7 linked regions of the Homo sapiens genome follow. The protein of the gene in region 4 purifies or fractionates together with the protein of the main gene of each other region. This does not show direct contact. Each region holds a gene or a part of one and is shown on either strand. Other genes may lie near its edges. The genes, in order: VKORC1L1, CMSS1, SERINC1, AGPAT3, RABL3, BCL7B and METTL9.

Region 1 (3,500 bases), on a different chromosome or scaffold from region 4:
CCTTCTCGGCCTCCCAAAGTCCTAGGATTACAGGTGTGAGCCACTGCACCTGGCCCCAAGTTATTATTATTATTATTATTTATTTCTTTTTTGTGAGACGGAGTTTCGCTCTTGTTGCCCAGGCTGGAGTGCAATGGCGCGATCTCAGCTCACTACAACCTCCGTCTCCCGGGTTCAAGTGACTCTCCAGCCTCAGCCTCATGAGTAGCTGGGATTACAGGCATGCACCACCTCGCCCAGCTAATTTTGTATTTTTAGTAGAGACAGGGTTTCTTTATGTTGGCCAGGCTGGTCTCGAACTCCCAACCTCAGATGATCTGCCTATCTTGGCCTCCCTAAGTGCTGGGATTACAGGTGTGCACCACCGCACCCAGCCCAAAAATTATTTTTAAAAGCAGAAGACTGTGGAAATAGTGGATATGTAAAGGTAATGGGATTATGAATATGGTTTCTTGTTAATGTCCCCTTAATATATGATATTTTTCAAGGCCACTGAGTCTATAAAATAAGGAAAAACGTTAACAGGGAAGATGGGAGTGATAATTTCCTGGAATGGGACTGGTTTTTCTGGACATCATGAGATACTGCTCTCCATGATTAAACAGCAATTGACATAAATTCAACAATAATATAATAAAAATCTCAGTGAATCAAGTTTTCATAACACAAAAATGTTGTACACGCTAGTGGTTCTATAAATAACACATGCTTTAACATCAAGACACTTCAGGGCAAAGACACAAAGTACTAAACGGAATATAACAAACTTATTTTTGTATTGATAAATACTTACCAAGTAATAACTGTAGTATATAAAATATAAGTCCAAAGACACTGTTTGGCTGGTTTAATACACCATCCTTTCCAAAAATGGAACCCAAAAGACCAAATCCTCGACCCCATCTGTAAAATAAGGAAAACCAGTAACCCTATATTTGAATTTCCCTATTTTAAAAAATGTATCATTATTTGAGAACGTTATCCAATTCTAAAATCAACTAAGTTGTGAAATGTCTTAAATGTCCTGTGTTGAGAGAGTGATTTGCCCCAAAGAGAGGGAGGCCAGTCACTAGATTTCTGATTAGAAATAATCATCTAAAATGAACATATCTAAAGGTGCCAGTATACCCATCTGAATCTCTCAGTTGCCAATTTCTATATATTCTCTTCTCCAGAAGGTAGGGCAAAGTATTCGTTTTCCAATGGCATTAGTATTTGCAGAAGGAGACTTCTCTATGCAGAAGGAGACAGTTGTCCACTGTCTCTTAACAGTGGACTACTGACATTTTGGGCTAGATAATTCTTTGTGCTGTGGGGTGTTCTGTGCATTACATAACTAACAGTACCCCAGAGCTCCCCCAACTAGATGCTGCCAGTACTCCTCCATCCCAGGTGTGACTACCAAAAATGCAGTCACAGCCATTGCCAAACATCCGCTGGGACACGACTGCCCCCAGTTGAAAACCATAGAATGTAAGTTGTGCTATTTATTCACTCAAAGAATATAGATTGAAAAGTTGTTTCTTCACAAATTTCACCAGGATATGCATTAAGAAATATACTGGGAATGTATTTTTTAAATGTAGGGCCGGGCCCGTGGATCACACCTATAATCCCACCACCTTGGGAGGCCGAGGCGAGCAGATCACAAGGTCAAGAGTTCGAGACCAGGCTGGCCAGCATGGTGAAACCCGTCTCTACTCAAAATACAAAAAATTAGCCGGACATGGTGGTGTGCACCTGTAATCCCAGCTAGTTGGGAGACTAAGGCAGGAGAATCACTTGAACCCTGGAAGCAGAGGTTGCAGTGGGCCGAGACTGCACCACTGCACTCCAGCCTGGGCAACAAGAGCAAAACTCCATTTCAAAAAAAAAAAATGCAGGATAATATCAGAAACTATAGGTCTTTCCTGGAATCCTATCTCAGATGTAAAAAACTGGATACATTATATGCCCTATCAGTTTTTATTTGCAATTTAACTTTAAATCTTGCATTTGACTTAACATTTTTAAAACCTGATTTTTTTTAAATTGTTAACTTATTTGATAAAACTTGATACAAATATCAAACATTCATTTTGAATAAAAAACCTTTAAAGATAATGTTAACTCTGGATTGAACGAGAGTGCTTCTTAAATACTAAAAAAAAAAAAAAAAACCAGTTATGGTGTTAAGTCAGTAGAGAATCAGTCTAAACAAAATCTAAACTTTGGTTCTGAAGACAAACTGCCCCAAAGCAAGGATAAATAAGTAATTCTTCACAGGCCACAATAGTTTAATAGCACTTGATGCCCAAGATATAGAATGAAACCCCTGTATAACGATGATGTTGGGAGAGAAAAATCACCCCGATTTTACAAACAAGTGAAAGCCATGAAGATTTTTATTGTAGAATTATGCAATCCTTTTTGTTTGTTTTGTTTTGTTTTGTTTTTTTGAGACAGGATGTTCCTCTGTTGCCCAGGCTACAGTGCAGTTGCAATCATGACTCACTGCAGCCTTGACCTCCGAGGTTCAAGTGATTCTCCTGCCTCAGCCTCCCGAAGTAGCTGAGACTACCACACCCAGCTATATATATATATTTTTTTTTTGGTATTTTTTTATAGAGTTGCAGCTTTGCCATGTGCCAAGGCTGGTCTTGAAGTACTGGACTCAAGCAATCCTCCCACCTTGGCCTCCCAAAGTGCTGGGATTACAGGCTGAGCTATGACACCCAGCCTTCAGTTATACATTTCAAAGAACATAAAATAATTTCCATTATATTCATTTATTCTTTCACTCATCTAAATACTTATTGAGCATGTACTGTGTGCACTGACGCTACGTGCCGGGGATCCAGAAGTGAACGAGCCAGACGAGGTGCTGCCCTTGTGGACCTTAAATTCTATTTAGGGAAGAGAAATAATAAACAGGTAAACAAATGCCAGATTACCTGCAGCAATGGACACACCTTGTAACAGATACACAGGAAAATTAGAAGGGGAAACTCTAGATCAGTGCTTCTGAAATTTTTAAAGCACAATCACTCTGGGGTCTGGTTAAAATGTAGCTGTTCCTTCAGTGGGTCTGTGGTGGGGCCTAAGACTCTGCATTTCCAGAGAAAACACAACACAAAATGAAATGCTTGCAGGCAACACTGACGCTTCTGGTCTGAAGCCCACACTTGGAGATCCATAGCTGTGGGCAGAGAAGGGGTGCAGCAAGCTCCTCTAGCTTGATGGTCGGGAAGGACCTTTTCCAGGAATGAAGTTTTGAATGAGATCCTGAGTGATGGTAAGCAATCGGTCTCATGAGCAATGGCAAGTCAAAGGCCTTGAGGTAGGAATGAGCTGTGGGTGTGCCAAGGAAGGCCACTGAGGCTGGGGCATGGTGATTGAGGAGAGTGACAGGAGAACTGGGAGCGAGTCCAATCATTTACATTATTTAGGGCCTTGTGTGTAGGCCATGCCGAAGAGTTTGAATTTTATTCTAATTGCTATGAAAGACGTTTAGTAGCTTT
Region 2 (2,185 bases), on a different chromosome or scaffold from region 4:
TAATCCCAGCACTTTGAGAGGCCAAGGCAGGTGGATCACTTGAGGCCAAGAGTTCAAGACCAGACTGGCCAACATGGCAAAACCCTGTCTCTACTAAAAATACAAAAATTAGCCAGGTATCATGGCACACACCTCTAATCCTAGCTACTCAGAAGGCTGAAGCATGAGAATCACTTGAACCTGGGAAGCAGAGATAGCAGTTAGCCGAGATCACGCCACTGCACTCCAGCATGGGCAACAGAATGGGACTCTGTCTCAAAATAATAATAATAATAATTTTAAAAATTTCAACTCTGAATCAAATGTGTGTTAGGACTTTTGCACTCTCTGATTCTGGCCATAACAGCTGGGTAAATATCAGGGAGTCCTGATGGTTGAATGTATTCACCAAGACCATTTTGGCTTGATCTTAATCTTTTTTTCCCCCCTTTTCTCTCATTTAGATAAGAAAGGAGGTATTCGAACTTCTGGAAATGGGAGTGCTCAGTCTGTGCAAGTCAGAATCCTTGAAACTGGGCCTTTTCTAAGTCTGTGTCCTAATGAAGATTCCAGTTTTCACAGTAGAAGTTGCATCTTATTTAATGACTCTGATACATTGCAAGCACTCAGTAAATATCAGCAAATAGTTTATGTTAATTGTGTCAACAGATGGATCACTGGAATGTGGGGATTCTGAAACAGAAATGAAACTGTCCTTTTGACAACTCTCTTATATAATAAAGTATCACCGGCTTGTGTATGATCCTTGTTGAGCGGACCGTGTTTTTCTGTCACCAACTGGCTTCTGATGTAACTGTGCAGGAGAAAGGAAAGAGCAGCTGGGTGACCTTAGGCAAGCGTAAGGTCTTGCCTCTCTGAGCCCCATCTTATCAACTCAAAGTGGGAATGTCTCACAGCATTGTTGAGGATTCCAGGAGATAGTACATGGGGAGCAGATTTGTAAACTCTGAGGCATGGTCCCAGCAAAAAGGGTGGCAGGTATATTAATCCATTCTCACATTGCTATAAAGAACTACCCGAGACTGGGTAGATTATAAAGAAAAGAGGTTTAATTGACTCACAGTTTCACAGGCTGTACAGGAGGCATGGCTGAGAGGCCTCAGGAAACTTGGCAGAAGGTGAAGGGGAAGCAAGCACATCTTCACATGGCGACAAGAGAGCAAGAGAGTGAAGGGAGAAATGCCACACACTTTTAAACGACTAGATCTTGTGAGAACTCACTCCCTATCATGAGAACAGCAGAACAGCAAGGGGAAAATCTGTCCCTATGATCCAGTCACCTTCCACCAGGTCCCTCCCCCAACATTGGGAATTATAATTCAACATAAGATTCGGGTGGAGACACAGAGCCAAACCATGTCAATTCCACCCCGGCCTCTTCCAAATTTCATGTTCTTCTCACATTTCAAAACACAATCATGCCTTCTCAACAGTCCCCCAAAGTCTTAACTCATTCCAGCATTAACTGAAAAGTCCAACTCCAAAGTCTGATCTGAGACAAGGCAACTTCCTTCCACCTATGAGCCTGTAAAATAAAAAACAAGTTAGTCATTTCCAAGATACAATGGAGGTACAGGCATTGGGTAAATGCTCCCATTCCAAGTGGGAGAAACTGGCCCAAAGGAGCTAAAGGCCTCATGCCAGTTTGAAACCCAGCAGGGCACTCTTTGAATCTTAAAGCTCCAAAATAATCTTTGACTCCATGTCTCACATCCAGGCCACTCTGATGCAAGGAGTGGGCTCCCAAGGCCTTAGGCAGCTCTGCCCCTGTGGCTCTGCAGGGTACAGTCCCCATGGTTGCTTTCACAGGCTGGTGTTGAGTGCCTACAGCATATCCAGGTACACAGTGTAAGCTGTCAGTGGATCTACCATTCTGGGGTCTGGAGGATGATGGCTCTCTTCTCACAGCTCCACTAGGCAGTGCCCCAGTGGGGACTCTGTGTAGGGTCTCCAACCCCACATTTCCCCTCTGCACTGCCCTAGTAGAGGCTCTCCATGAGGGCTTCACCCCTGTAGCAGACTTCTGCCTGGACATCCAGGCGTTTCCATACATCCTCTGAAATTGAGGCAGAGGCTCCCAAACCTCAGCTCTTGCCTTCTGCACACCCATAAGCCCAACAGCACGTGGAAGCTGCCAAGGCTTGGGGCTTGCACCCTCTGAAGCAATGGTTCAGCTGTACCTTGG
Region 3 (3,500 bases), on a different chromosome or scaffold from region 4:
GCAGTCATCAATACCAGCTATGACCACATGTCCAGCTGCAGAAACGAGGGCTGTAATTGTTGTGAGTACTTCCTCCTTGTTTTGTCAAAAACATGTTCATGCATGCATATACTTGTACTAAGAAAATATCTTCATTTTATTTCCATTCTCCTTTATCATGTGACATAAGATTTACTGACTTCACATCAGCATTTAAGTATTGTTAACTTTATGTAATTAGTATTTTGGTTGGGGACTGGTGCGTTTTCAGTTGTAAGGTTAGTTGTATGACCTTATTATTGTCTTTATTTGCAGATTATGTATGATCTCAGGAGATGTATACGGGTTCAAGTTGACAATGGGTAGACTTCTGATAGTTATACTGAGTGTCAATTGAATTCAAGGATGCAAAGTACTGACTTGTAATGGTTAATACTGAGTGTCAACTTGATTGGATTGAAGGGTGCAAAGTACTGATGCTGGGTGTGTCTGTGAGGGTGTTGCCAAAGAAGATTAACATTTCAGTCAGTGGGCTGGGAAAGGCAGACACACCCTTAATCTGGGTGGGCACCATCTAATCAGCTGCCAGCAGGGCTAGAATATAAAGCAGGCAAAAAAAAAAAGTGAAAAGACTAGACTGGCCTAGCATCCCAGCCTACATCTTTCTCCTGTGCTGGATGCTCCCTGCCCTTGAACATCAGGCTCCAAGTTCTTCAGTTTTGGGACTAGGACTGGCTCTCCTTGCTCCTCAGCTTGCAGATGGCCTATTGTGGGACCTTGAGATCATGTGAGATAATACTTAATAAACTCCCCTTTATATATATCTATCTATCCTATTAGTTCTGTCCCTCTAGAGAACCCTAATACACTTGATTATCAGAAAAAACAACAATTACATAAACTGCTTTTAAGACCATTTTGAGAAAGATGTATTTCTCACTAATTCATTATGGAAAAATGAGAATGTTAGTTCCATTTCACAGGCTTATTTCACATAAGTGGGATAATGTATCAAAGTATAAGGTGAACTGTATAAATGAATAGTTTTTATAAACACATGATAAATGCCTCCATCTAAAACTCTAATAATTTAATAAAATAATCAATGACCAAAGGAACAAAATAAAGGAAAAGCAACCCGTCACATATTTTCTCATTAATATTTATATTCTACTTGTTTATACTTTTTGTCTTTGGTAGCACATATAACTAGATAAGCAACAGCAGATATTAAAACAGTCAAATAAGGGTACCAGAAGTAGTGCTCTATATGAAGGAAGATTGATAAAAGAAACCCTGAAGTTTCTTTCTGGGTTGTCCAATACAACCAACCTAGAAAAATCTGCTCTCTGGGTCTAGGGAACTGAGAGTTCTATGTAAGTGGACTGGTCCACCTAAAGTTAACAGTAGAAGGAGAAATAGCTATTCCCTTAGTAGTCACAAATATAATAGAGCCTCTTTTTTAGTATGAAAATATAAAACACTGTGGATCAGAGGTTATCACAGCTATTATTTAATATCCAAAGTCTGACATTCTCCAGTAAAAACAAGATTTTCTTATCCTGTCATTCATGAATAAAGTAATTCTGCAAATTGTATAAGTTTATTTTACCTTAAAGTTTCCTTGGATAAACTGGCAATTATCAAGAAGAGGCTACCCAAGCTTTTATATTGAAGCTTATTTAAAAACTTACCCATTGTGCACTGCAGCTCTAGGATCACTGCTACTCTTCACTTTGATCATTAGTAAAGAGAGAAGAAGATAGAACATAGCCAAACCAAAGCACAAACGATATACAGCTTTATAGCCAACCAAAATGTTACAAGGGACAACACCTTTCTCATTCTCACAAAATCCAGGAATCTAGAAAAACAAAAGAGTTTATGATCCATCATTTTTTTTCATTAAGTAAAAATAAAAATTACATGTAATCAAATAGTTTAAGTAAAGGTTTAGAAAACTGGCATTTGCTTTACAATTTATGATGAATATGTACTCAAGATGAGTCTGATACATTTTAATCACATACAGTGGGGAAAAAAGAGTTAAATCCCCATCTGCGCAAATCATAAACTACAATACCAACTCTATGCTGGTTGCTTATTTTGAGTTATAGATTTATCCTACATTTTAAAAACTTGCATTCTACTTGAATAGCACGATAGACTTGTTTTAGTAGTGTAAGTGCTATTTCTGAGACTACTGTTCAGAACTATTAATACATCTATTATTCATATATATAAGAATAAATTATTTCCTCCCACTCTTTCCAGTCCCAGCACTCTAAAAAAACTGCTTTTCCAGGATACTAGTCATGTACTGGTTTCCAAACCCAAAGGCTACTGCTTAATCACATTCCTTAATCTCATTTTTATATAGACACTATCCCTGTCATTCTTAAAACTTTCTTCCTAGAACCTATACATTTTCTTTGTTCTTTTCTGTTATCCCTTCCCTCCCAGTTTTCTAGGATCAGAATCAGGTTTTCCTTTCTCCACTAACTCCCTTAAGTAAGAGATTTTGGCAGAGTTCTAGCTCTGCTCACTCTGAATGATCTTCAGCATACGCTGCCATGGTTTCAACATTCAATTTCTATCCTCAAGGCAGTCTCTAGCTCTGATTTCTCTTTTAAATTCCTTCATGTTTTCTACTTACTGCTGTATATTATTATGGACTTCGTGTTTGTGTCTACCCAAAATTAAATGCTGAAACTCTAACCCTCAATGGGAGGATAGTGGGAGATAGGGCCTTTATGTGGTAATTAAATCATGAGGGTAGAGCCCTCAGGATGGGATTAATGCCCTTATAAAAACAGACAGAAGAGAGCTGCTGCTTTCTTTCAAAAATGTAAGATGGCCATGTGTAAACCAGGAATAAGATCCTCATCAGAACTTGACCATGGTGGCACCCTGATCTCGGACTTTCAGCCTCCAAAACTGAGAAATAAATTTTTGTTGTCTTAAGCCACCCAGCCTATGATATTCTTGTTATAGCAGCCTGAACTGAGTAAGACATACATATATATATATATATATACATGTACACGATACAATACCACCAAGTCAACATGTTAGAAACTAAATTTATTATGTGTTCCCAATCTCCTTCCACAACCTGACTCTCTCTAAAAATTTTCCTTTCTAGGTTAATAGCAATACTTTCCTCCCGGTTTTGTAGGACCAGAACCTGGTTGTTATTTATGATTCCATATCACTGCCAATATTTCAGTGCTAGGCTCAGTCAATTTTACATCCAGAAAATCTTATTTCAGGTCCGCTATTCTCTTCTTGATTATACCACTGCAACAGCCTCCATATTTAACTGCTTGACTTTTATACTTTATTAATTGTAAGATTAATCTTCCTAAAGTATAGATACTTTGCTTGAAAAGCTCTTTTATACTCATTATGCTTTCTATTTTTCAATCTCTGTATATGCAAGTTCTAATCATTCTTAGAACATCCTTTTTTCCATGACCCATTGAGATTCTGACACCTGGTTAGAATTATACTTCTTTCTG
Region 4 (3,500 bases):
CGCGAGACAAGCTAGGGTTAACAGTGACCCTTGGGTTTCAGCAGAGGCAAACGAAAGTACACTCTGGAGAAAGTCTCATTCAGGCCTGAAGAATCCCACAGATTAAGGAAAATTAAATATGAATTCATAATCAAGAATGACAACGTAAACAGCAGATGTGGACTGAAGATGACCCACTGTGCCCCGACTTGAAAGAGAACCAAGTAGAACTGCTCTCAGTGAGAACTGTAGATATTTTAAAGCAAAAACTTACAGACAGGTTTTGTATCAGATTAGATACAGTTAATGAGAATGGGTACAGAACCAAGTAGAACTGCTCTCAGTGAAAACTGTAGATATTTTAAAGCAAAACCGTATGGATGGATTTTGTATCAGATTAGACACAGTTAATGAGAGAATGGGTACACCAGACATCAATGTGAAGAAATCATCCAGTGACAGTAAAGGAGGTGAAAAATGTGAAATAGGCGTGAAAAGATGTAAGGACAGAATGAGAACCTTCATAAAATAGGGCTTTGGCCCCCATCCCCAAAGGAGAGAACAGGAGAAGCCTCCTGGGAAGAGAGGATGCCTGAGGACCTCCTGAACTGATGAAGGCACGATTTTTCAGATACAGGAAGCACATGTAGACCAAGCAGAGCGAATGCACAGAAATCCACACCTAGGCAGGCCCTGGGGCATCACAGACCATCAGAGACAAGGAGGAGCCGGGCGCGGTGGCTCACGCCTCTAATCCCAGCATTCCAGGAAGCTGAGGCAGGAGGATCCCCTGAGGTCAGGAGTTTGAGACCAGCCTGGCCAACATGGTGAAACCCCATCTCTACTAAAAATATAAAAATTAGCTGGGCCTGGTGGCACATGTCTAATCCCAGCTACTGGGGTGGCTGAGGCAGGGGAATCATTTGAACCTGGTCGGTGGAGGTTGCAGTGAGCCGAGACTGCATCACTGCACTCCAGCCTGGGTGACAGAGTGAGACTCTGTCTCAAAAAAAAAAAAAAAAAAAAAAAGATAAGGAAGTCTTCGAATCCCCGGAGAGGAAAGCTGGAGAACCACGCTGGATGGTCAGCAGTGAGGCCGACAGCAGATTTCTTACGGCAGGCAGCAGTGGCGGGAGAAGGTGGAAGATCCTCAATGTGCTGGAAAATCACCAACCTAGCACCCTGTGTTGTTCAAGAGTACAAATAAAATAAAAAGGTTTTGGTAAACAAAAAAATGAGAGCTTTTACTGCCCATAGATCTTCACTTCAATATTTTTTAAGGATGTGTTTCAGTAAGAACAAAAATTATAAAAGTAGGGTATAATTTTCAAGAAAGAATGGTAGCCAAAGAAATTAGGAGATGGATGAATCTAAACCGTATGTAAAATAAAAACAGTGCTCAGCCGGGCGCAGTGGGTCACGCCTGTAATCCCAGCACTTTGGGAGGCCAAGGTGGGCGGATCACCTGAGGTCAGGAGTTCAAGACCAGCCTGGTCAACATGGTGAAACCCCATCTCTACTAAAAATACAAAAATTAGCCTGGCATGGTGGTGGGCACCTGTGATCCCAGCTCCTCAGGAGGCAGAGGCAGGAGAATCGCTTGACCCTGGGAGGTGGAGGTTGCAGTGAGGTGAGACTGCACCACGCTCAGCTAATTTTTTGTTTTGTATTTTTATTAGAGATGGGGTTTCACCATGTTGCCCAGACTGGTCTCAAACTCCTGACCTCAGGTGATCCGCCCACCTCGGCCTCCCAAAGTGCTGGGATTACAGGCGGGAGCGCCCAGCCCAGGTTCAGATTTTAATGGTAACTTTGTTAAGTATAGGGTAGGAAAAAAGAGAGATCAAACATAGCTTCCAAAGTATTAGAAAAAGATAAAGAAAAAAAGGTAAATCTCTTTTGTTAATGCAAGAAAGTAGAAAGAAAAGCATTAAAATAAGAAATATTGAGGTATACATTAAGATCAATATAAAATTCCCAGATACTTGGGATGACCACAAATACACAAGAAAAGCACTTCAGTAAGAACAGAAATAATCGGCCTCTCCATCTGCTGGGCTTGCGTGGGTATGTGAATTCCGTCTGTGACTTGTTGGATTTGGGATGTTCTCCACTTAGATTTATTTCCATGAATATGTTTGTGGGAGCCTTTCTGCAGTCAGAGGTATGTGGAAGCCTTTGCCAGTTCAGGGGCGCATGGTGAGAGCAGACCTCACAGTGGGTTTGTTTATGTTTGTTTGTTTTTGAGACAGGGTCTTGCTCTGTCGCCCAGGCTGGAGTGCAGTGGTGTGATCTTGGCTCACTGCAATCTCTGCCTCCTGGGCTCAAGCAGTCCTCCTACCTCAGCCTCCTTGAGTAGCTGAGACCACAGGTGTGCACCATCATGCCCAGCTAATTTTTGTATTTTTTGTAGAGACAGGGTTTTGCCATGTTGCCCAGACTGGTCTCCAACTCCTAGGCTCATGTGATCCTCCTGCCTCAGCCTGCTGGGCTGCTGGGATTACAGGCTGAGCCACCGCACCAGCCACAGTGTTTTCTGATGACCCTGAACCACGGTTTTATTTTCAATTCTTCATTCCTGTTCTCATTCCTTAATGCTGGGTGCCTTCTTGCTGCCCATTTTGAACTCACTGCCAGTGTGTCTCTGCTGTCATCTGATGTGCAGAGCTATAGGTGCTGCGGCGAAGGGTGCAGGTTTGGAGCCGTTTAAACAACCTGGCCCAGCCTCCTCACTCCCTGCTGACCTTGGTCAAGGCTTCAGTCTCTAAACCTCAGCTTTCTCATCTGCAGAGCACAGACAAAACCACCTGCCTTTGAGCTGTCTTATAAAGCCTAAATCAATGCGCACAGCAGGTACACAGCAATGCTTGATAAATTGTTACTATTATTGGGTGAATTTTAGGTTTTTTTTGTTGTTGTTGTTGTTTTGAGACAGAGTCTCTCTGTTGTCCTGGCTGGAGCACAGCAGTGCGATCTTGGCTCACTGCAACCTCCATCTTCTGAGGTTCAAGTGATTCTCGTGCCCCAGCCTCCCAAGTAGCTGGGATTACAGGTGCCTGCCACCACATCCAGCTAATTTTTTTTATTTTTAAGTAGAGATGGGCTTTTGCCATGCTTCCCCAGCTGGTCTTGAACTCCTGGCCTCAAGTGATCCTCCTGTCTCGGCCTCCCAAAGTGCTGGGATTACAGGCTTGAGCCACCGCACCCGTCCAGAATTTTAGATTTTTTTAAATCCGTGGTTGAAAAATAGGCTATGGCTGGCTTACTCATTGTGCTTTAGGGAAGCATGTATTTGAGTGAAGGAAATGATAAAAGGAATTTCATATCGGGCCCAGGCGCCGCCCACCCTGCAAGACAGTTTACAGATGCCTGCCCTGACAGCTGTCTGCAGTTAGCCAGCGTCAGCCGAGGGGTCCTGAGATCCGCTGAAGGCTGCCTTTGCATGCCGACAGCAAGGGAAAAGTGCCACATGTCCCTGGGCTTGCCACAGGTGACCTTTGGATGGGACCATTCTCCAGACA
Region 5 (3,500 bases), on a different chromosome or scaffold from region 4:
ATGTCTTACTCCAATCTTAGGGGGAAAGCATTCATTTCACTATTAAGTATGATGTCAGCTTTAGGTTTTTTTTGTTGACATCATTTATCAGGTTGAGAACATTTCTTTCTATCCCTAATTTGCTGATAGTTTTGTTAATATCATGAACAGATACTGAATTCTGTCAAAAGCCTTTTCTGCATCAATTGATATGGACATGTGGCTGCTTCTTTAGGCTGTCAGTATGGTGGATTACGTTCACTGATTTTCAATACTGGTGGATTACATTCACTGATTTTCAAATATTGAACCAGCCTTCCATTCCTTGGTCATGGTGTATTATTCATTTTATGTGTTGCTGGATTTGATTTGCTAATATTTTGTTGAGGATTTTTATCCATGTTCATGACAGGCATTGGTGTGTAGTTTTCTGTTCTCATAATGTCTTTGACTGGTTTTGGTGTGAGGATAATGTTGGCCTCATAGAATTAATTGGAAGTATTCCTTCCTCTTCTATTTTTTGGAAGAAATTGAGTATATTTGGTGTTATTTCTTCTTTGAAGGTTTGGTAGAATTTACCAAGAGACCATCTGGGCCTGGAGGTTTCTTATTTGAAAGGTTTTTAACCACAAAGTCAACTTCTTTAGTAATTAGGATTGTTCAAGTTATTTATTTCATCTTGGATGAGTTTTTGTAATTTGTGATTTTCAAGGAATTCCATCTATTTCATTAAATTTTTTAATGTATATCAATAGAGTTGTTTATAGTATTTGTTTATTGTCCTTTTGATAGTTGCACAGTTTGTAGTGATATGACCTTTTTCATTCTGATTTTGGTATTTTATGTCTTCTCTTTTTCTTGTCAGACTTGTAGAGGTTTATCAATTGTATTGATTTTTTTCCAAAGAAGCAACTTTTGGTTTCATTGATTTTTCTCTATTGTTTTTCCATATACAGTTTAATTGATTTCTACTCTTATTTCTTTCCTTCTGCTTGCTTTTGGTTTATTTTGTTCTCTATAGCTTCTTAGATTACTTACTGGATACCTTGCATTTTTGCCAATACAAGTATTTTAATGCTATAAATTTCCCTCTAAACACTGCTTTAGCTGCATCCTGCAAATGTTTAAATGTATTACTTTTATTTTCATTTAGTTCAAAATATTTTCTAATACTCCTTGAGATTTTCCCATAGGCTGTTTAGAAATGTGTTGTTTAGTTTCCATGTATTTAGAGGCTTTCCAGTTATTTTTTGCTATTGACTTCTAGCTTAATTTTATTATGATCCAAGAACATACTTTATATGATTTCACTTATTTTATATTTGTGCAACACCCGGTATGTGACCTGGGTGTTGTTGTCTCTGTTGTTTCAGTTTTCAGTGTCTTTGGTACACTAAGTAGGATCAAATCCATGCATGCACAGCTTTGGCAATGAGCTCAAGCATTCACGAACTACTTCATGGGGTTGCTTTCTCACACTTCACCCTGTCTACAGTCTCTGCCATACTTTGTGATTTGCTGGGGCTCCCTTTTTCGGTCCCCAGGCCAAATTTTCTCATGCACTTGCACAACTGCACCTATGTCCAGGGCCAAGTGGTAGAAGGACAAAGAATAAAAGCAATGGGAGTTTGCCCCACTGTCTTGAGATACAGTTCCATCAGTCAGAAAAATTTCCCTTCTGGGCCCGGCGCGGTGGCTCACGCCTGTAATCTCAGCACTTTGGGAGGCCAAGGCGGGCGGATCATGAGGTCAGGAGATCGAGACCATCCTGGCTAACATGGTGAAACCCTGTCTCTACTAAAAATACAAAAGATTAGCCAGGCGTTGTGGCGGGCGCCTGTAGTCCCAGCTACTTGGGAGGCTGAGGCAGGAGAATGGCATGAACCTGGGAGACGGAGCTTGCAGTGAGCCGAGATCACGCCACTGCACCCCAGCTTGGGCAACAGAGTGAGACTCCGTCTCAAAAAAAAAAAAAAAGAAAAATTTCCCTTCCTCTGTATTTGTAAGCAGGCGTTCCCAACCCCTGGTCCATGGCCTGTTAGGAACCAGGCCACACAGTGGGAGGTGAGTGGCAGGTGAGTGAGCATTACCATCTGAGCTCCACCTCCTGTCAGATTAGCAGAGGCATTAGATTCTCATAGGAGCGTGAATCCTATTGTGAACTGTGCATGTGAGGGATCTAGGTTGCAGGCTTCTTATGATAATCTAACTAATGCCTGATGATCTGAGGTGGAACAGCTTCATCCTGAAACCATCCCCCAAACACCTGTCCATGGAAAAATTGTCTGCCATGAAACTAGTCTCTGGTACCAAAAAGGTTGGGGACTGTTGTTTTTGAGCATTCTGCTTGTGTTATAGCCTTTGCCACAACTGTCATGAAATTGCTCAGAAGCTGGCTTACAACAGAAGGAAAAATATTGTATTTCTACACTATCTCCAAGTATTCGTGTGTCCCCTTTCTTGTTTCATGAGCCAGAACTATAGGCCTTCTTCTGGAGTATTCTGTTCACACTTTTGGGTTTTAAGCTGAGTTGCATTCAGACAAGGGGATATGGAAGGAAACTGCTAATTCAATGGTTCTTCACATTGCAGTCTTCCTTAATATGCTCACTATTAATTTTTCAGAGTCCTCAAATAGCCACTTCATGTATCCTGTCCAGGTTTTATAGTTGCATTCACTGGGAAAGACAGGATAGAGTTTGCTTATTCTGTCTTACCTAGAACAGAACCCCATTTTCTATCTTTTGATTGAAGCAAGTCTTTCAAAGGCTTTGTTTTCTGTGTGGAAGTCTAATTGTTATGTGAAACCTAAATATAGTATAAGTTTGAGTATATATATGTAGATTCCAGCAAGACCTAATAAAGAATAAGCACAACTAATTTAAAACCTATATTTCAAAGCCTCATTGATATTTATTTCCTATCTCAATTCCTTTCATCACTGATGTCTTCATTAACCTAGCTTGTTCTCTATTTTCTACTAAAATTTCTACTTAAGAAACTTATCCTTAAATTTAGGGTTAGGAGACAGCATATTCATATCAGAAAGAAATCTGCATTTTTGTCAGGGAATTCAGTAAAAGTTCTATACCCATTTGCATTTTGACACTACAGTTTCATTTTGATTCTATAGATAAACCTGCAAATGTATAAAACAACCTTAATACATTGGTGTGCTTTGTTGGTGCATTATTGTATAGCATCAAAAAATTTGGAAACAACCCTAGTGTCCGAGCAACGAAAGATTCATTGAATAAATAATGGCATATCCACATACTGGAGTAGTATTCAATGTTTAAAAAAGAATCAGGAAGATCTCTATGAACTAAAATAGAAAGATCTACAGAGGGTACATTATTAGGTTTAACAAATCAAAATGCAGAGAATATATATCGTATACCTCCTATTGTATAAGAAAGAAAAGAAATAATATGTATTTATATTTGGATAAAGAATCAGTGAAAAATAAGAAACTAATAAAAATGGTAACCTATAGGGGGCCAGGGGAGATGGGTGGATGG
Region 6 (3,500 bases), on a different chromosome or scaffold from region 4:
ATTTTACCTGTATATGAAATTCTAGGTTCAAAATTATTTTCTTTCAGCACTTTGAAGCTATTACTGAATTGTACATCCAGTGTCGCTGTTAAGAAATGTGATGTTATTCCCATGCTTGAGTCTTTGTAGGTGATCTACTTGGCTTCCTGGAAACTTTAGCATTTCTTCTATATTTGATCTCCTAGGAATTCCCTCAAAATATCCTGTAATATTTCTTTTCCTTTTTTTTTGAGACTGTCTCACTCCATAGCTCATGCTGGAGTACAGTGGTGCAATGATGGTTCACTGTAGCCTCAAATTCCTGAGCTCAAGAAATAGTTATGTCTCCACCTCCCAAGTAACGGGGACTACAGGCACGTGCCACCACGCCTGGCAAACTTTTAAATTATTTGTAGAGACAGGGTCTTGCTGTATTTCCCAGGCTGGTCTCAAACTCCTGGGCTCAAGCGATCCTTCTGTCTTGGCCTCCCAAAGTGCTGGGATCACAGGTGTGAGCCACTGCACCCACGCAGCTGCTTGCTTGCTTGCTTTTTTTTTTGAGATGGAGTTTTGCTCTTGTTGCCCAGGCTGGAGTGCAATGGCACAATCTCAGCTCACCGCAACCTCCACCTACCAGGTTCAAGTGATTCTTCTGCCTCAGCCTCGCGAGTAGCGCTTGCCTCACCATGCCCAGCTACTTTTGTATTTTTAGTAGAGATGGGGTTTCTCCGTGTTGTCAGGCTGGTCTTGAACTCCTGACCTTAGGTGATCCGCCCGCCTTGGCCTCCCAAAGTGCTGGGATTACAGGCGTGAGCCACCACGCCTGGCCAACTGCTTTATTTCTTAACTTTTCTCTCATTCATTTCATTTCTTGTCTTTCCTGGTGCATTCTGAGTTTCTCAACGCAGTTTTTGCTCATTAATCTTTTATTTAGCTGTATGTATTTCAATTAACCTCATTCACTTAATTTTTATTTGAGCAATTGTATTTTTCATAACAAATTGCCTCAATTGGTTCTTCCTCAAAACGACTTTTTTTTTTTTTGAGACAGAGTCTCGCTGTGTCACCCAGGCTGGAGTGCAGTGGCATGATCTCATCTCACTGCAGCCTCCACTTTGCAGGTTCAAATGATTCTACTGCCTCAGCCTCCTGAGTAGCTGGGATTACAGGCATGTGCCACCATGCCCAGCTAATTTTTTTCTATTTTTAGTAGAGACAGGTTTCACCATATTGGCTAGGCTGGTCTCGAACTCCTGACCTCAAGTGATCTGCCTACCTTGGCCTCCCAAAAAGTGCTGTGATTACAGGCTGTGAGTCACTGCCCCTGGCTAAAACAACTTTTCAATATTATCCTTATCTTTCTGAGCAAATCCATGTTTAATTTCAGTTATTCTGCTCCTTCTGGTACAGACTGTTCTGTTTATCAGGGTGCCTGTGTTCCTCCAATCTCTGGTGAGTTTTATGCGTGCACTCACCTTTTATTCCCTTGGGACTCTCAATTGCATTGGCTGGTAATGTGTAACTACGAGGAGGACGGAAGCCTGATCCGTAGTTTTTCTTTCTTTTTTTTTTTTTTTTTTGAGATGGAGTCTCGCTCTGTCACCCAGGCTCGAGTGCAGTGGCACGATCTTGGCTCACTGCAAGCTCTGCCTCCTGGGTTCACGCCATTCTCCTGCCTCAGCCTCCCAAGTAGCTGGGACTACAGGCACCCGCCACCACGCTCAGCTAATTTTTTTGTATTTTTAGTGGAGGCGGGTGAAAACCGTGTTAGCCAGGATGGTCTCAATCTCCTGACCTCGTGATCGGCCCACCTCGGCCTCCCACAGTGCTGGGATTACAGGCGTGAGCCACCGCGCCCGGCCAGTTTTCCTTTCTGTAAATGAATTTAGGAGGTTGAGGTTAGCCTCAGGGTTCAGCCTCTCCCTTTTGCTCTCTGCTGTCCTCTCTGGCTCCAGGGAACCTCCTAGCACCAACTGTATGGACTCTGCCTTTATCTGAGAGCAGCCATCCCAAGAAGTTCTAGGATGCCAAACTCATGGAGTTGATGGGGCGTGGTTCTGGAGCAACTGTTTATTCCCCCATCCAGCCTGGCTCTGGCCATTACCCACAGGGGTCAAAGGTCAAGCAGTTAAATCTCTTGGGCATTGTGTATAGACAGGAGTAGATGCTGCTAGAAAACCCCCTTTCCTTGGCCGAGTGCGATGGCTCACGCCTGTAATCCCAGCACTTTGGGAGGCTGAGGCGGGCGGATTGAGACCATCCTGGAGCCAGGAGATCGAGACCATCCTGGCTAACATGGTGAAACCCCATCTCTACTAAAAAATACAAAAAATTAGCTGGGCATGGTAGTGGGCGCCTGTAGTCCCAGCTACTCGGGAGGCTGAGGCAAGAGAATGGCGTGAACCTGGGAGGTGGAGCTTGCAGTGAGCCGAGATTGTGCCATGGCACTCCAGCCTGGGTGACAGAGCAAGACTCTGTCTCAAAAAACAAACAAAAAATTGAGTTATTAACAAAAATTACGTTACTAATATAATGCATCTACCGGAAATGTATAAAAAGTGTGAACTGGTAAATTTGAGGCTACTCAGATTTAAACTTTTGGCTTTTGGGATGCTCTCATTTTCATATGCTTGGATTTACTCTGGGCTTTTTTTTTTTTGAGTTAGGGTCTAACTGTGTTGCCCAGGTTGGAGTGCACAGTCATAGCTCACTGCAGCCTCAAACTTTCAGGCTCAAGCGATCCTCCCACCTCAGCCTTCTCAGTAGCTGGGACCACCAGCCTATGCCACCATACATGGCTCATTTTTTATTTTTTTGTAGAGATGGGGTCTTACTATGTTGCCCAGGCTGGTCTCAAACTCCTGGGCTCAAGGGATCCTCCCACCTCCGCCTCCTCAAGTGCTGGGATTACAGGCATGAGCCACTGTGCCTGGCCCTTGGGCTTTCTTGTTGCAAGCTGGTGCTTACCTGCCCACTGTGGTTGCCCTGCACTTATAACCTACATCTTTCTTGAAACAAATGTTATAGGTAAAAATAAACATGGGGTGATCATTTTGTTTTTTGGGTTTTTTTGTTTGTTTCTTTTTGAGATGGAGTTTCGCTCTTTCGCCCAGGCTGTTATGAAGTGGCAGAATCTTGGCTCACTGCAACTTCCACCCCCCAGGTTCAAGCGATTCTCCTGTCTCAGCCTCCAGAGTAGCTGGGATTACAGGCACATGCCACCATGCCAGGCTCATTTTTGTATTTTTATTTATTTATTTATTTATTTATTTTATTTTTTGTTTTATTTTATGTTTTTTTAGATGGAGTCTCGCACTGTAGCCCAGGCTGGAGTGCAGTAGTGCCATCTTGGTTCACTGCAACCTCCACCTCAAGCAATTCTCCTGCCTCAGCCTCCCAAGTAGCTGGGATTACAGGCACATGCCACCACACTCGGCTGATTTTTGTATTTTTAGTAGAGATAGGGTTTCACAATGTTGGCCAGGCTGATCTTGAACTCCTGACCTCAGGTGATCCATGCG
Region 7 (3,500 bases), on a different chromosome or scaffold from region 4:
AGTTTAACTGGAGATTGAAGAGAACCCTCAGAAAAGCAACTATAGGTCCAGCCAAGTCTCATGGAAGCATCACTCTGGGAAATAAAGCGCAATCCCTATTTAGGACTTGTTTTCTAGCTCTGAAATTCTAGTTTATCTAGGACAGGGATTCTCAACCCTCCTTTAAGCAGCAGAACCCTTTCTTTAAATGAAGTGGAACTCACAGATAACATAAGATCCTAAGAGAGCTGCTGCTGTTCGAATGAGGTTGGGAGCCCAGGAGCTGTGGCCAGCCCACTTCTAGGCCTTTCTCTGCAGCCTGAAGCAGTTCCTGAGGCACTTCCTCCTCAGACCCTAGAAAACAGTTTGGGGACCACTGGTCCAGGAAGTGGCAGGGAAACCTGTTCTGTACTGCTGCTCTCTGGAAACAATCATAAGGTACAGAATGTTTGCTGCTATACAGTGACTGGAAAGATGCATGCAACACGGTGCCCAAGGTAAGACCAGTTTTAGGAAAAAATACAAATAATGGAGTTCATGTAACAAAGTCCCCCTTCCTTTTCCCATTAAGGCCATAGGAGAGTTTAACCAAGTTTACAGTAAATCTTCTGCCCCCATAGAAATGCTAAAAATTTGGAGAAAGACCTCAGAGACCACTAAACGTGATGCTACCGACTACAACTGCTTACCAAAGAAAATCACGTCTCATAAAAGACAAGTTGTTTTAATCCTCAATTGTTCATATATTACAGTAAGAAAATAAGCAAATCTGAACTTGCTGAAGTAGCTGTACAAAATTTAACACAGAAACCAGTCACAGCAGAAAGAGGCTACTGGCAGCATGGCTGAGGGGAGGCGAATTTCAAATACTGATGCTGACTTGCCACAGGACCAAAAGTAAGTCACAAAATAGTTATTTTGCTTAAATTTTCCCAGAGCGTGCTTCCCAAGCCATCTCCTTGGGATGTGAGGAATCTTGACATGATAATTATAAAATTCTAGAACAAGAGGTCACCTGAGCTCAGAGCTCACAAGTTCATCTGACTGGTCTACATTTATAGGCACTAGAGGCTGGGCATGGTGGCTCACGTCTGTAATCCCAGCATTTTGGGAGGCCGAGGTGGGAGGATCTCTTGAAACCAGGTGTTTGAGACCAGCTGGGCAACATGGTGAAACCCCGTCTCTATAAAAAATACAAAAATTAGCCAGGCACGGTGGCATGAGCCTCTAGTCCCAGCTACCTGGGAGACTGAGGCAGGAGGACTGCCTGAGCCTGAGGAGGTCAAGGCTGCAGTGAGCCATGATTGTGACACTGCACTCCAGCCTAGGCAACAGAGCGAGACCCTGTCTCCAAAAAAGAAAGAAAGAAGGCACTAGAGAAAGAGGGGAAGCATTGTCCTATTTCGAAAGAACATTAGCAACAGGGGCTCTACAAAAAGATTAACACTGTCAAAAAATAAATCAAAATCCATCAAGCCCAGTGTTTATCAACCAGGATTGATTTTGCCCTCTAGGGGGCAATGGGAGTAGACAGGAGAGTTTCCAGTAATCACAAGGACCTGGGGGTACTACTGCCATTTAGTGGGCAAGGCCAGAAAAGTTAGACTTCCTGCAGTGTGGGGGGCAGTCTCGCACAATGAAAAACAGTATCACCTAAAATACTGAGCCCAATACAAAGTTTCCCATAAACACAAACCATGAAGAGATATGACCCTCTAATTTGGGTTTAACTTTAGTGTTTAATAACCATCCTAGGTTCTCTGATCACAATCTAAGTTCTCTCTAGACTTAAGAGTCTACGGAGAGATGCACCTCTTCCTTATAAAATAAACTCTGGAACATCTACTAAGTCTTTCCTTACTTGGCCTTCTCCTTTCCAAAATAAAGGAAGTTTGATAAGTATCCTAAGGTAATACAAGACAGTACTACAGTAATGATTTCTGTGAGAGATGGCCACCTGTAGTAATTATCTCCCACTGCCATGACCGGAAAGTACTGATGGGCCCTAAAATTTAGTTTTTAGCTGAGAATGGGACACAAGGCAAGAAGGACTGAAAGCAGGGTGGGTATCAGAAGGAAAAAGCAGAAGAGTTTTAAGTAAGGGAAGCCAAAAGGGGTTTATTAACTGCATTGCCTCTTTGATCAAACTGTGAAATTCTAGAGCACGGAATTTTAACCAGGGTCTTATGGGTAGAGGAAAGGGGAAATAAAAGTTTGAAGCCCCCAAAATCATACACAAAATGTTGAATGTAAGCACTTTTTGAAGAGAGGATTCCTACCTTTATCACTTTCAAAGAGCTACAGGACCCCAGAAAGGATAAGAATCTCTGCTACAGTGACTCATCTGAATTCCAAAGGAAGAATAAATGGTATAGAACAGAAATTCAATATAACCAATTTAAGGAACAAAATGTCAGACCAAGTTGTATCAACTCAACCACCCATATAAAAATAACAACTGTTTGCCAAAGCAAACGTATGGCAATTTCACATAAACAATGAAGAAAATCAACTGAGAAATCTTGAGAAATGGCTTGCGGTGCCTGAAGACTTAGGACCAGATGATACACTGGGGATCCAGTCAGTCAGTAGAAACTGCTCCAAACCTCAAGGGAAAAGAAAAGTGGGCCCAACCAGTGGTTTGAGTGGTCCAATGAGGCTTCTTAACCATTGAGCCTGTTGCTTTTCTCTTTGGCATTTTAGATTCTAGGTCCTTAGGAATGCTTGAAAACATGGCCAAGAAAGGATTGAAAAAAAAAAAAAACAAAAAAAACTCCTAAAGCTTTTTCTATGGATTTATATGAGGGAACCACTCTGGGGACAGAGAATTCCACAATAAGTTCATAAAATTCTGGTGAACCTAGACATTATTTAAGAACAGATGCAGGACTCTTCACTCAAAATAAGCCATCATCCACTGTTGGGCTGACTAATTATATCTCCCAAAAAAAATTTGCCACTGCGAAGTATGTTTAAGGCAAAGATCTTACTTTTCAGCCTAAGGGCGTAAAGCCCTCAGCTTCAGGGCTTGGTTCCAGGAGTCTTGCTACTTTGTGGTCCAGAACCAGCAGCATTCAGCATCACTGGCATCGTCTAAGAGCTTGTTAAAAATGCAGACTCTCCAGGTGCAGTGGCTCCCACCCATAATCCCAGCACTTTGGGAGGCAAAGGTGGATGGATCACTTGAGGTCAGTTAGAGACCAGCCTGGCCAACATAGAAACCTCGTCTCTACTAAAAATACAAAAATTAGACAGGTGTGGTGGTGCACACCTGTAATCCCAGCTACTTGGGAGGCTGAGGCATGAGAATTACTTAAACCCGGGAGGCGGAGGCTGCAGTGAGCCCAGATTGCCACTGCACTCCAGTCTGGGAAACAGAGCAGGACTGTCTTTAAAAAAAAAAAAAAAAAAAAAAAAAAAAAAAAAAAAGCAGACTCTCAGACCTAGCCCCTGATGTACTAACTCATAATCTGCATTTTAACAAGACCCCCAGGTGATTCCTATGTACATCAAAGCCAAGA

What was found.
Region 1: the proteins of AGPAT3 (region 4) and VKORC1L1 purify together in Homo sapiens (affinity purification with mass spectrometry; one large-scale study listed by BioGRID and IntAct). This does not show direct contact.
Region 2: the proteins of AGPAT3 (region 4) and CMSS1 purify together in Homo sapiens (affinity purification with mass spectrometry; one large-scale study listed by BioGRID and IntAct). This does not show direct contact.
Region 3: the proteins of AGPAT3 (region 4) and SERINC1 purify together in Homo sapiens (affinity purification with mass spectrometry, with the first as the bait; one large-scale study listed by BioGRID). This does not show direct contact.
Region 5: the proteins of AGPAT3 (region 4) and RABL3 purify together in Homo sapiens (co-immunoprecipitation; 2 studies listed by BioGRID and IntAct, with this or other methods). This does not show direct contact.
Region 6: the proteins of AGPAT3 (region 4) and BCL7B purify together in Homo sapiens (affinity purification with mass spectrometry; one large-scale study listed by BioGRID and IntAct). This does not show direct contact.
Region 7: the proteins of AGPAT3 (region 4) and METTL9 purify together in Homo sapiens (affinity purification with mass spectrometry, with the first as the bait; one large-scale study listed by BioGRID). This does not show direct contact.

The regions. Positions count from the first base shown.
Region 1 is NC_000007.14:65,946,074-65,949,573, reverse strand, and holds part of VKORC1L1 (vitamin K epoxide reductase complex subunit 1-like protein 1), read right to left. Parts: intron 904-3,500; coding exon 794-903; intron 1-793. UniProt on the Homo sapiens protein: Involved in vitamin K metabolism. Can reduce inactive vitamin K 2,3-epoxide to active vitamin K, and may contribute to vitamin K-mediated protection against oxidative stress.
Region 2 is NC_000003.12:100,177,862-100,180,046, forward strand, and holds part of CMSS1 (protein CMSS1), read left to right. Parts: intron 1-443; coding exon 444-527; 3' UTR 528-2,185.
Region 3 is NC_000006.12:122,454,808-122,458,307, forward strand, and holds part of SERINC1 (serine incorporator 1), read right to left. Parts: intron 1,844-3,500; coding exon 1,674-1,843; intron 1-1,673.
Region 4 is NC_000021.9:43,962,723-43,966,222, forward strand, and holds part of AGPAT3 (1-acyl-sn-glycerol-3-phosphate acyltransferase gamma), read left to right. Parts: intron 1-3,500. UniProt on the Homo sapiens protein: Converts 1-acyl-sn-glycerol-3-phosphate (lysophosphatidic acid or LPA) into 1,2-diacyl-sn-glycerol-3-phosphate (phosphatidic acid or PA) by incorporating an acyl moiety at the sn-2 position of the glycerol backbone.
Region 5 is NC_000003.12:120,701,017-120,704,516, reverse strand, and holds part of RABL3 (rab-like protein 3), read left to right. Parts: intron 1-3,500. UniProt on the Homo sapiens protein: Required for KRAS signaling regulation and modulation of cell proliferation. Regulator of KRAS prenylation, and probably prenylation of other small GTPases. Required for lymphocyte development and function. Not required for myeloid cell development.
Region 6 is NC_000007.14:73,544,191-73,547,690, reverse strand, and holds part of BCL7B (B-cell CLL/lymphoma 7 protein family member B), read left to right. Parts: intron 1-3,500. UniProt on the Homo sapiens protein: Positive regulator of apoptosis. Plays a role in the Wnt signaling pathway, negatively regulating the expression of Wnt signaling components CTNNB1 and HMGA1.
Region 7 is NC_000016.10:21,613,077-21,616,576, reverse strand, and holds part of METTL9 (protein-L-histidine N-pros-methyltransferase isoform 1 precursor), read right to left. Parts: intron 1-3,500. UniProt on the Homo sapiens protein: Protein-histidine N-methyltransferase that specifically catalyzes 1-methylhistidine (pros-methylhistidine) methylation of target proteins.